2 separate regions of the Homo sapiens genome follow, and region 2 is linked to region 1. Evidence: fine-mapped expression QTL. A gene starts in region 1. The other region holds a variant in brackets. All regions are shown on one strand. Distances are from middle to middle. Region 1 holds the start of TRIM4 (tripartite motif containing 4). Region 2 has its middle 6.4 kb from the start of OR2AE1.

What was found. PIP is the estimated chance that this variant, and not a neighbour inherited with it, causes the effect. A credible set is the group of variants that fine-mapping cannot tell apart.
Region 2: its variant is the best candidate, but not a certain one, in a credible set for the expression of TRIM4 in lymphoblastoid cells (GENCORD, PIP 0.68).

Annotation. Positions count from the first base shown.
Region 1 is chr7:99,916,976-99,921,373 of GRCh38, forward strand. TRIM4 (tripartite motif containing 4) reads right to left here and starts at 2,555. Exons shown (of 6, transcript NM_033091.3): 1 at 2,034-2,555. The coding sequence starts at 2,426. LOC101927610 (a long non-coding RNA gene) reads left to right here and starts at 2,628. Exons shown (of 2, transcript XR_001745296.3): 1 at 2,628-2,852; 2 at 4,209-4,398. RefSeq lists a silencer at 2,127-2,286 and enhancers at 2,417-2,466, 2,497-2,576, 2,817-2,926.
Region 2 is chr7:99,881,198-99,885,595 of GRCh38, forward strand. No RefSeq gene overlaps it. Among named protein-coding and RNA genes, the nearest start is that of OR2AE1, 6.4 kb to the left of the region's middle. The variant CT/C (reference allele first, on the strand shown) is at 1,816.

The sequences.
Region 1 (4,398 bases):
CAGTCCTCTCACACACCACATGCTATCCCACTCCACCACATTTGGAATATGCTGTTCCTTTGGCCTGAAATACCTTCTTTCCTACCTCTACTCACCCTTGAAGAGCTAACACATTTAACTCCTCAACGGAGCCTTTCCTCACTCCTCAGTGATCACTCCGACCTCAGACCTTCTGTACACTTGGTAAATACTTCAGCTACTCTCACACACACTGAAATTAATGTTGTACACGCTTAAGTTCCTTACAAGACAAAGCCCATGTCTTTCTCATCCACTTATGTCCAGATTCTAAAACAATGTTTGGCAAATAGTAAGCATCAATAAACGTTACTGAGTGAAGGAATGAACATACACTTTCTAGTCCAGCTTTGTGTCTGTTTCCTGTTCATAGTCAGCTGGTACAACTGTACAGTATTTTACAGTTTCCAAACATTTTCACTGTGTCATTAAATTCATGTGTTTGGCCAGGAAAGCTTGCTCACGCCTGTAATCCCAGCACTTTGGGAGGCCAAGGTGGGTGGATCACCTGAGGTCAGGAGTTCGAGACCAGCCTGACCAACATAGTGAAACCCTGTCTTCACTAAAAATACAAAATTAGCTGGGCATGCTGGCAGGTGCCTGTAATCCCAGCTACTCGGTAAGCTGAGGCAGGAGAATCACTTGAACCCGGGAGGTGGAGGTTGCAGTGAGTTGAGATCTCACCACTGCATTCCAGCCTGGGCAACAAGAGCGAAACTCCATCTCAAAAACAATAATAATAAAATAAATAAATAAATTCATGTGTTCATGTACTTACTGCATATCAATTCTGCTGGAGACCACTGGAGTTACACCATCAGTAATGGGAGGGGGTGGGGCTACTCTGGAAAGGATGATCAGGGAAGGTCTTCAAGCTAAAAGCTAAAAGGATCTAAAGGATAGATGTGGGTAGAGAAAGAGAACAGACTTGAAACAAAAGCAAGAAAGCCAGTATGGCTGAAGCAGAGTAAGGTAAAGTGATTTATTCAACCGGAGCTTCTTAACCCATGAGATAGGACAGATAATCCCCAAATTCAAATGTTACAGGATTTTCCCAACTGATGAAGGAAGCTAGTAACAAAACCCAGCCTCATCATTACAAGCTAGGCTTTTCCCAAATCATCAGCTGTCTATGACATTTACAGATACAGACAGGCACTGTCCAATACAGTATCCATTTAGCCATACAAGCACCTGAAACGTGGATATTCCAAACTGCTATGTGTTGTAAATGTAAAATACACACCAATTTCAGACCTATTATGAAAAAGGAGTATAAAATATCTCATTGAGGCCGGGCGTGGTGACTCACACCTTAATCCCAGCACTATGGGAGGCCAAGCGGGGCAGATCACTTGAGGTCAGCAGTTCGAGACCAGCCTGGCCAAGATGGTGAAACCCCTCTATACTAAAAAACAAAAATTAACCGGGTGTGGTGGCGTGTGCCTGTAATCCCAGCTACTCGGGAGGCTGAGGCAGGAGAACTGCTTGAACCCCGGAGGAGGAGGTTGCAGTGAGCCAAGATCACGCCACTGTGCTCCAGCCTGGGCAATAAAGTGAGACTCCATCTCAGAAAAAAAAAAAAAATCTCATTGATAATTTTCATCTCAGCTTTGAATATTTGGGGTAATCAGATTAAATAAAATATATTATTACAATTAACGTCACCTCGTTTCCTTATCTTACCAGAAAGATTTTAAATTACATATGTGGTTTCTATTGGACAGCAGCGGCACACACCCTCTCAGTATGTTTTTCTTTATTATGAGCTCCCCAAGGGCCAGTTTATTGAAAATTCTGCACAATGATTGCTGAGGTTTGCACCTCCCCTCCTCTCATTCCAGTTTTAACCCTAGCTCTGAAATTCGTGTTTTGCTTAACTTCTTTGAGTTTCAGGGGCTTTTCATGCTTCCAGTAGGAATGACAGCCACTTCGTGGCTCTTTTAGGAGCATTAAGTAAACTTTATCGGGCAACACTGACAGCCCCGTCATAGTCACCGCGACGGCCAGCTCACCCGGTAGCTCTCGAAGGCCTCGTCGATGGGTGCCATGGCGTGAGTCTGGTGCTCCTGGGACTCCCTGCACACCAGGCACACTGGCCGCTGGTCGTCCTCGCAGAAGAGCCGCAGCGGCTCCCAGTGGCGGCCGCACAGGCCCGGGGGCACGGGGCCCAGGCGCCGGCGCTGCGTCTTCTCAGTCAGCCTGGCCAGGGCCCAGTTGGGTCGCAGCGCGGCGGGCGCCGATGGGTGCCGACATTCGGGGCAGGGGAACGGGCCGCCGCCCGGCGCCCAGTTGCGGTGCAGGCAGCCGCGGCAGAAGTTGTGGCCGCACTCGATGGACACCGGGTCCTGGAAATAGTCCAGGCAGATGGGGCAGGTCAACTCCTCCTGGATGTCCTCAGCTTCCATGCTGCTTCCCTGCCGCGGAGACGGAGTCCGACGTGAGGCGCGGGAGAGGCCAGCAAGCTGCGAGCGGCCGCGGGGAGGCCAGACGACTTCCGAACCGCCGTCACCGCCTCACGTAAAAGGGTACAACGCAGTTTCTCTTCCGGGGTTCAGGACCCAAAAAGAACGCACGGACGTTGCCCGGCCTGAGCGCGCAAGACCGGAAGCTGCTGGGTATCCGCGCCGGAACCGCGAGGGGGTTGGTTCAGGCCTAGGCGCGGGGCAGGACGGGACCGGTGAGTGGCTCCTCCAAACAGCTATAGAGACCCAGAAATGCCTGTGGAAAGCTACAGAGGACTTGGGCAAGGCGTTAGAGCCGGACGTTGTGGTCCCTGGGGGAGCCAACCGGGGAGGTGCCTATGATCTTTCTTTCCAAGTTTGAGGGTTCAGGTCTGTGTTCGCCTGCTGGTTAGACCGATTTAAGTTTTAGAGTCCCAGGAGTTCTGGGCGAGCTGCAGCCTAGGGGCCTGGAAGGCCAGGAAGACTTGAAGGATCTGTGTTGGTAGGCCTGGAGTTTGGCTAACGTGGGGATGATTTGGATTCTGAGATGCAGATACATTGCCTTTTTGGTATCCAATTTGAAAAGTAGCAACCATTTTGCTATCCCAAAGAACATCCATGGAGGCTTTCAACAAATAATATGCTCACCTGTTTCAGGGAATTATCTATATCCCTTAAGTGGATTTTCGATCTTGTGTTTCTGAGGTGCTTTGCTTTTTATTCTTCCCACTTTCTTCCTTTTCTTGTGAATATTTGTTTAAAACAAAAAAAACTCTGGACTGACAAATTTAATAGAAGCTATTTGCACAAAGAACAGTTCATGAATTGGGCAGCACTCAGAACCAAAAGAGGTTCAGAGAGCTCTGTCCAGCAGTATGACCTGCTAGCTTTTATAGGAAGCAAAGTAGAGAAATCACCTCATTAGCTAACATCTAGGTGTCTGCCTTATTTGACAATGATATGATGAGGCATTTGCCTTATTGGGGCATGGTCTGATCAGTTGGCTGTCTGTTATTTGCTGAAGCTCGGCCGTGATTGGCTGAAACCCAGCTGTTATAAAAAATAAAGTAAGTTAGGCTTCAGTTCGTTTACATACTAAGTCAGGTTGTATTTTGTTATATGGGAACTCAAGTACCAAGACAGCCTCAGGCTAATGGGCTTTTGCTTATTTAACAGATTTTTCATTCTTTTTATGTCCCAATATCAAATACTGCCTTTCCTATAATAATTTTTCTCAGTAAGTAGTATGATTAAATGATTAGAAAAAGGGGTTCTTGAGGTATCTGTTTGGGGGTTATTGATGAAAGTTCCACTGAATATTTCTAAAACATTTAAATTGGACAACTAATGAATGGATTTTCTTTGCAAATTGGAATACTCTATGGAGAAGGGATCTGGTTCTTTAATAGGGACCAAGCAGGAAGGAATGCTCTTAACAGTTACTGATGTTTACCATGAGTGTTTATGGCATCTGTGTGTCTATATGTTTACCTAAGTATTGAATGAGAAGTTTCAGCATTCCTGCAAAGTATTTATTCCCCTTACAGTAGTCATTTAAATCTTTTCAGGTAAATCCCTTAAAATCCTTATGTCTTTATTCCTGCCATACCAGAGATGACCTTCCTTCTTTACTAAGTGAGGCTCCCTAATTAACAATTTTTCTCCATCACAAAATGTCTATAAGTCTGTATACCAGCCAAGGTTCATTCAGAGAAGTGGAATCACTATGTTTCTTTATGTTCGCAGGGCAAGCAGTTAAGAAGGGAAGATGAACATAAAGTAGGGAAGAGCAAAAATGAGTTGGAACCTAAGACACGAGCTGGTCATTCTTTCACTGTCTCCAACTTTAAAGATATGAGTATCCTTGCTAGAGGAGCTGACACTTTTTGCCACAGGACTAGACACACACACAGCTCAGGAATCAAAAAAGGTGAAG
Region 2 (4,398 bases), 36 kb before region 1:
AGGCACTCTCTTCTTAGCTTTACACTTCCTTCCCTACTTAATAAAATATGAATTTGGCTGATGCAGTCAGGAAGCACTTTTCTGACTGCATAAATGTCTTCTCAATAGTAATCATGGGGGTTAGAGTAAGAACATTCTTGGTCTGATGTGAGCCAATCATAAGAAAAAACAGACATCATCTGGGAGAAATAAAACATCCCCCTAACCCAGAGGACCTATGTCAGCTGAAGCAAATTGTGGACACTAAATAGAATGGCGTCAGGGATTCCATCCCAGAGGACACATCTTGCATGGCTTCTGGAGACCATTACTCAAGATGTCAATTAGACTGTGCTGTATGCACTGAGATAAGCATCCCCAAAGGGCTTTACTTGGAGTTTGTTCCAAGTGATCAGGAGAATGAGATATTTTGCGGAGTGAGCCTGAAGATAACAGGAGAATATTCTCCTCAGGGGCCAATTAACTGTGGAGATAAAAAATTCTTAGAGTCCCTTGATTGTTTTTCACTTGGGAACCCAGATTTCTGTAACGCCTTTCCACGCAACCCTTTTGAGAAGACAGTCTGAGTAATAATATCTAGTCTCTTTTGCCCACAGGACCCTTTTGAGGGTTTCCATGTGCCATATCATAGGAAAGAAGTCAAGGAATAGAGGCAGGCAGTTCCCATCCTAGCTGTTGATCGTACTCCAATTTCATAGACTACATGAATATAACATGTCAAGAGATTTCAGGTCGAGTGCGGTGGCTCACACCTTTAATCCCAGCACTTTGGGAGATGGAGGCAGGTGGATTACTTGAGGTCAGAAGTCTGAGACCAGCCTGGCCAACATGGCAGAACCCTGTCTGTACTAAAAATACAAAAATTAGCCAGGCATGGTGGCACACATCTGTAGTCCAAACTACTCGGGAGACTGAGGCAGGAGAATCACTTGAACCCGAGAGGTGTAGGTTGCAGTGAGCTGAGATCGCACCACAGCACTCCAGCCTGGGTGACAGAGTAAAACTTCATCTCCAAAAAAAAAAAAGAAAGAAAGAAAGAAAAAGATTTCAGACACAGAGGGAAAAGGAAAAAATGGCATAACCCTACCTCTCCTTCTTATGCACTCCGATATCATTCTCATACCCTGCCCTTCCTTTCCATTATAGGGATATGTTGACCTCTTCTTTGTTTCTCCATCTCAACTCAAATCCTAAAATGTTTTGCTTCACTGATATTCGCTGGTTGTTTAAAATTGTGTAGCACTCTCCCCAACTCTCTCTCACTCCTGCTTTCTCCATGTGACCTACCTGCTCTCACTTTGCCTTCTACGGTGAGTAAAAGCTCCCTGAGGCCTCCCAAGAAGATCATCGGACACAAGCACCAGGCTTCCTGTACAGCCTGCAGAACCATGAGCCAATTAAACCTCTTTTCTTTATACATTACCCAGCCTTGGGTACTTCTTATAGCAATGGAGGAATAACCTAATACAGATTGCAAATAATTTCTCTCATTCAATAGGTGGGCTTTTTATTTTTATTTTTTATCGTTTCTTTGCTGTGCAGAAGCTTTTGAGTTTGATGTCTTCCCACTTGCCCGTTTTTGCTTTTGTTGCCTTCTTTTGGTGTCATACCCAAGAAATCATTATAAAGGCTAATGTCAAGAAGCTTTTCCCTTATGTTTTCCTCTAGGAGTTTTATGGTTTCAGGTCTTACATTTTGGTCTTTAATTCATTTTATGCTGATTTTTGTGTATGGTGTAAGAGAGGGGTTTAATTTCTTTGTTTGCATGCGGATATCCAGTTTTCCCAAAACCAGTTATTAAAGAGACTATCTTTT[CT/C]TTTTTTTTTTTTGAGACGGAGTCTCACTGTTTTGCCAGGCTGGAGTGCAATGGCGTGATCTCGGCTCACTGCAACCTCTGCCTCCCAGGTTCAAGCAATTCTCCTGCCTCAGCCTTCCAAGTAGCTGGGATTACAGGCACATGCCGACATGCCCAGATAATTTTTGTATTTTTAGTAGAGACGGGGTTTCACCACGTTGGCCAGGATGGAAAAGAGACTATCCTGTCTTTATTGTGCATTCTTGGCACACTTGTTGAAGATAAGCTGACTGTATATGCATGGGTTTATTTCTGCACTGCCTATTCTGTTCTGTTTGTCTATCTGTCTGTTTTTATGCCAATACTGAAGCGACATCATTTGTCTGGGGAAATACCCAAGGTTCGTTGTCTTGTGCTAAGGAAATCAAATATGAGGACACATACAAGGAGTGGGTTTAAGAGCAGAACTTTAATTAAAGTGAAAGAAAGAAGACAGAGCTTCCTCATGCAGAGGAAGGGAACCAAAGTGGGTTTCCAGGTTTGGGGTGAGATGCAGTTGACTTTATAGAGGGGCTTAGAAAGGCAGTGTCTGATTTTCATAGGGCCCATGGGATTGGTTGGACCAGGTGTGCCATTTACATAGCCCGTGATTAGGCTGGCCATCCCACCCTAATCTTTTATTATACAGGTGGGATCTCCACCTGGCCAGCACCATGACATCTGCACATTTGGCAACAAAGAGAAGGGAGGAGAAAACCTCCATGTTGGATGTACCTGGCTTCCAGGTATCTCTTTGGTATCGGCACGGCTGCCAGTATTCACCTATGCAAGCTTCCAGCTTGTGTATCAATGCTTGCAGCTTGATTTTTCAGGTTGATTTTTGTTAGAAAAGAAATGATGTGGGGGCTGCTTTTTATTAAAAGGAAATTCCACTGAGAATTCTTTTACCCTTACTAACTGCCTAAATAATTCCTTTTTAACTTCTATATCAGTATCATGCTGTTTTGATTATTGTAGCTATGGAATATAGTCTTAAATCAGGACTTGTAATGTCCCCAGCTGTGTTTTTCTTGCTCAAAATTGCTTTGGCTATTTGAGGCCTTTTGTGGTTCCATGTGAATTCTAGGATTTTTTTCTATTTCTGTAATAAATACCATCAGGATTTTGATAGAGACTGCACTGATTCTGTAGGTTGCTTTGGTAATATGAACATTTTAACAATATTATTCTTCCAATTCATTAACATGGAATGTCTTTTCATTTATTTGTGTTTTCTCCATTCCAAAAACAACATAATACACATTCTTATCATCTGCAATGGCACATACTCTAAAATCAACCAATCAGCCATAAAACAATTCTCCACAAATTCAAAAAAACCAAAATCATACCAACCACACTCTCAGACCACAAAACAATAAAAATAGAAAACAATAATAAGAATAGCAATCAAAACTAAACAATAACATGGAAATTAAACAACCTGCTACTTAATGACTTCTAGGTAAACAATGAAATGAAGGCAGAAATCAAGAAATTCTTTGAAACTAGTGAGAACAAAAGATATAATATACCAAAATCTCTGGGACATGGCCAAAGCAGTATTAAGTGGAAAGCTTATAGCACTAACTGCCCACATCAGAAAGCTAGAATCTCAAATTAACAACCTAATATCACACCTTGAGGAACTAGAAAAACAAGAGCAAACCAAATCCAAAGTCAGTAAGAGACAAGAAATAACCAAAATCAGAGCTGAACTATATGAAATTCAGGTGCAAAAAAACCATACAAAATATCAATGAAACCAGAAGTCGATATTTGAAGGAATAAGTAAGATTGATAGACCGCTAGATAGACTAATAAAGAAAAAGAGAGAAGATCCAATTAAACACAATCAGAAATGACAAGGGGACATTACTACTGACCCAATAGAAATATTTAAAAAAAACAAAAACCTCAGAGAGTATAACAAACACCTCCATGCACACAAGCTAGAAAACCTACTAAAAGTGGCTAAATTCCTGGAAACATACAATCTCCCACGATTGAACCAGGAAGAAATTAAAAATCTGAACATACCAATAACAAGTTACAAAATTGAATTGGTAATAAAAAGCCTATCAACCAGATAAAGCCCAGGATCAGAAGGATTCACAGCTGAATTCTACCAGATGTATAAAGAAGAGCTGGTATCATTCCTGCTGAAACTATCCAAAAAACTGAAGAGGGACTCCTCCCTACCTCATTCTATGAGGTCAGGATCATCCTGATACAAAAACATGGCAGAGACAAAACAAAAAAAGAAAACTTCAGGTCAATATCCTTAAAAAAAACATAGATGGAAAAATTCTTAACAAAATACTTGGCTGGGCTTGGTGGCTCACACCTGTAATCCCAGTACTTTGGGCGGCCGAGGAGGGCGGATCACGTGAGGTCAGGAGTTTTAGACCAGCCTGACCAATATGATGAAACCCTGTCTCTACTAAAAATACAAAAATTAGCCAGGCGTGGTGGCACGTGCCTGTAATCCCACCTACTCAGGAGCCTGAGACAGGAGAATCGCTTGAATCCGAGAGGCGGAGGTTGCAATCAGCCGAGATCAG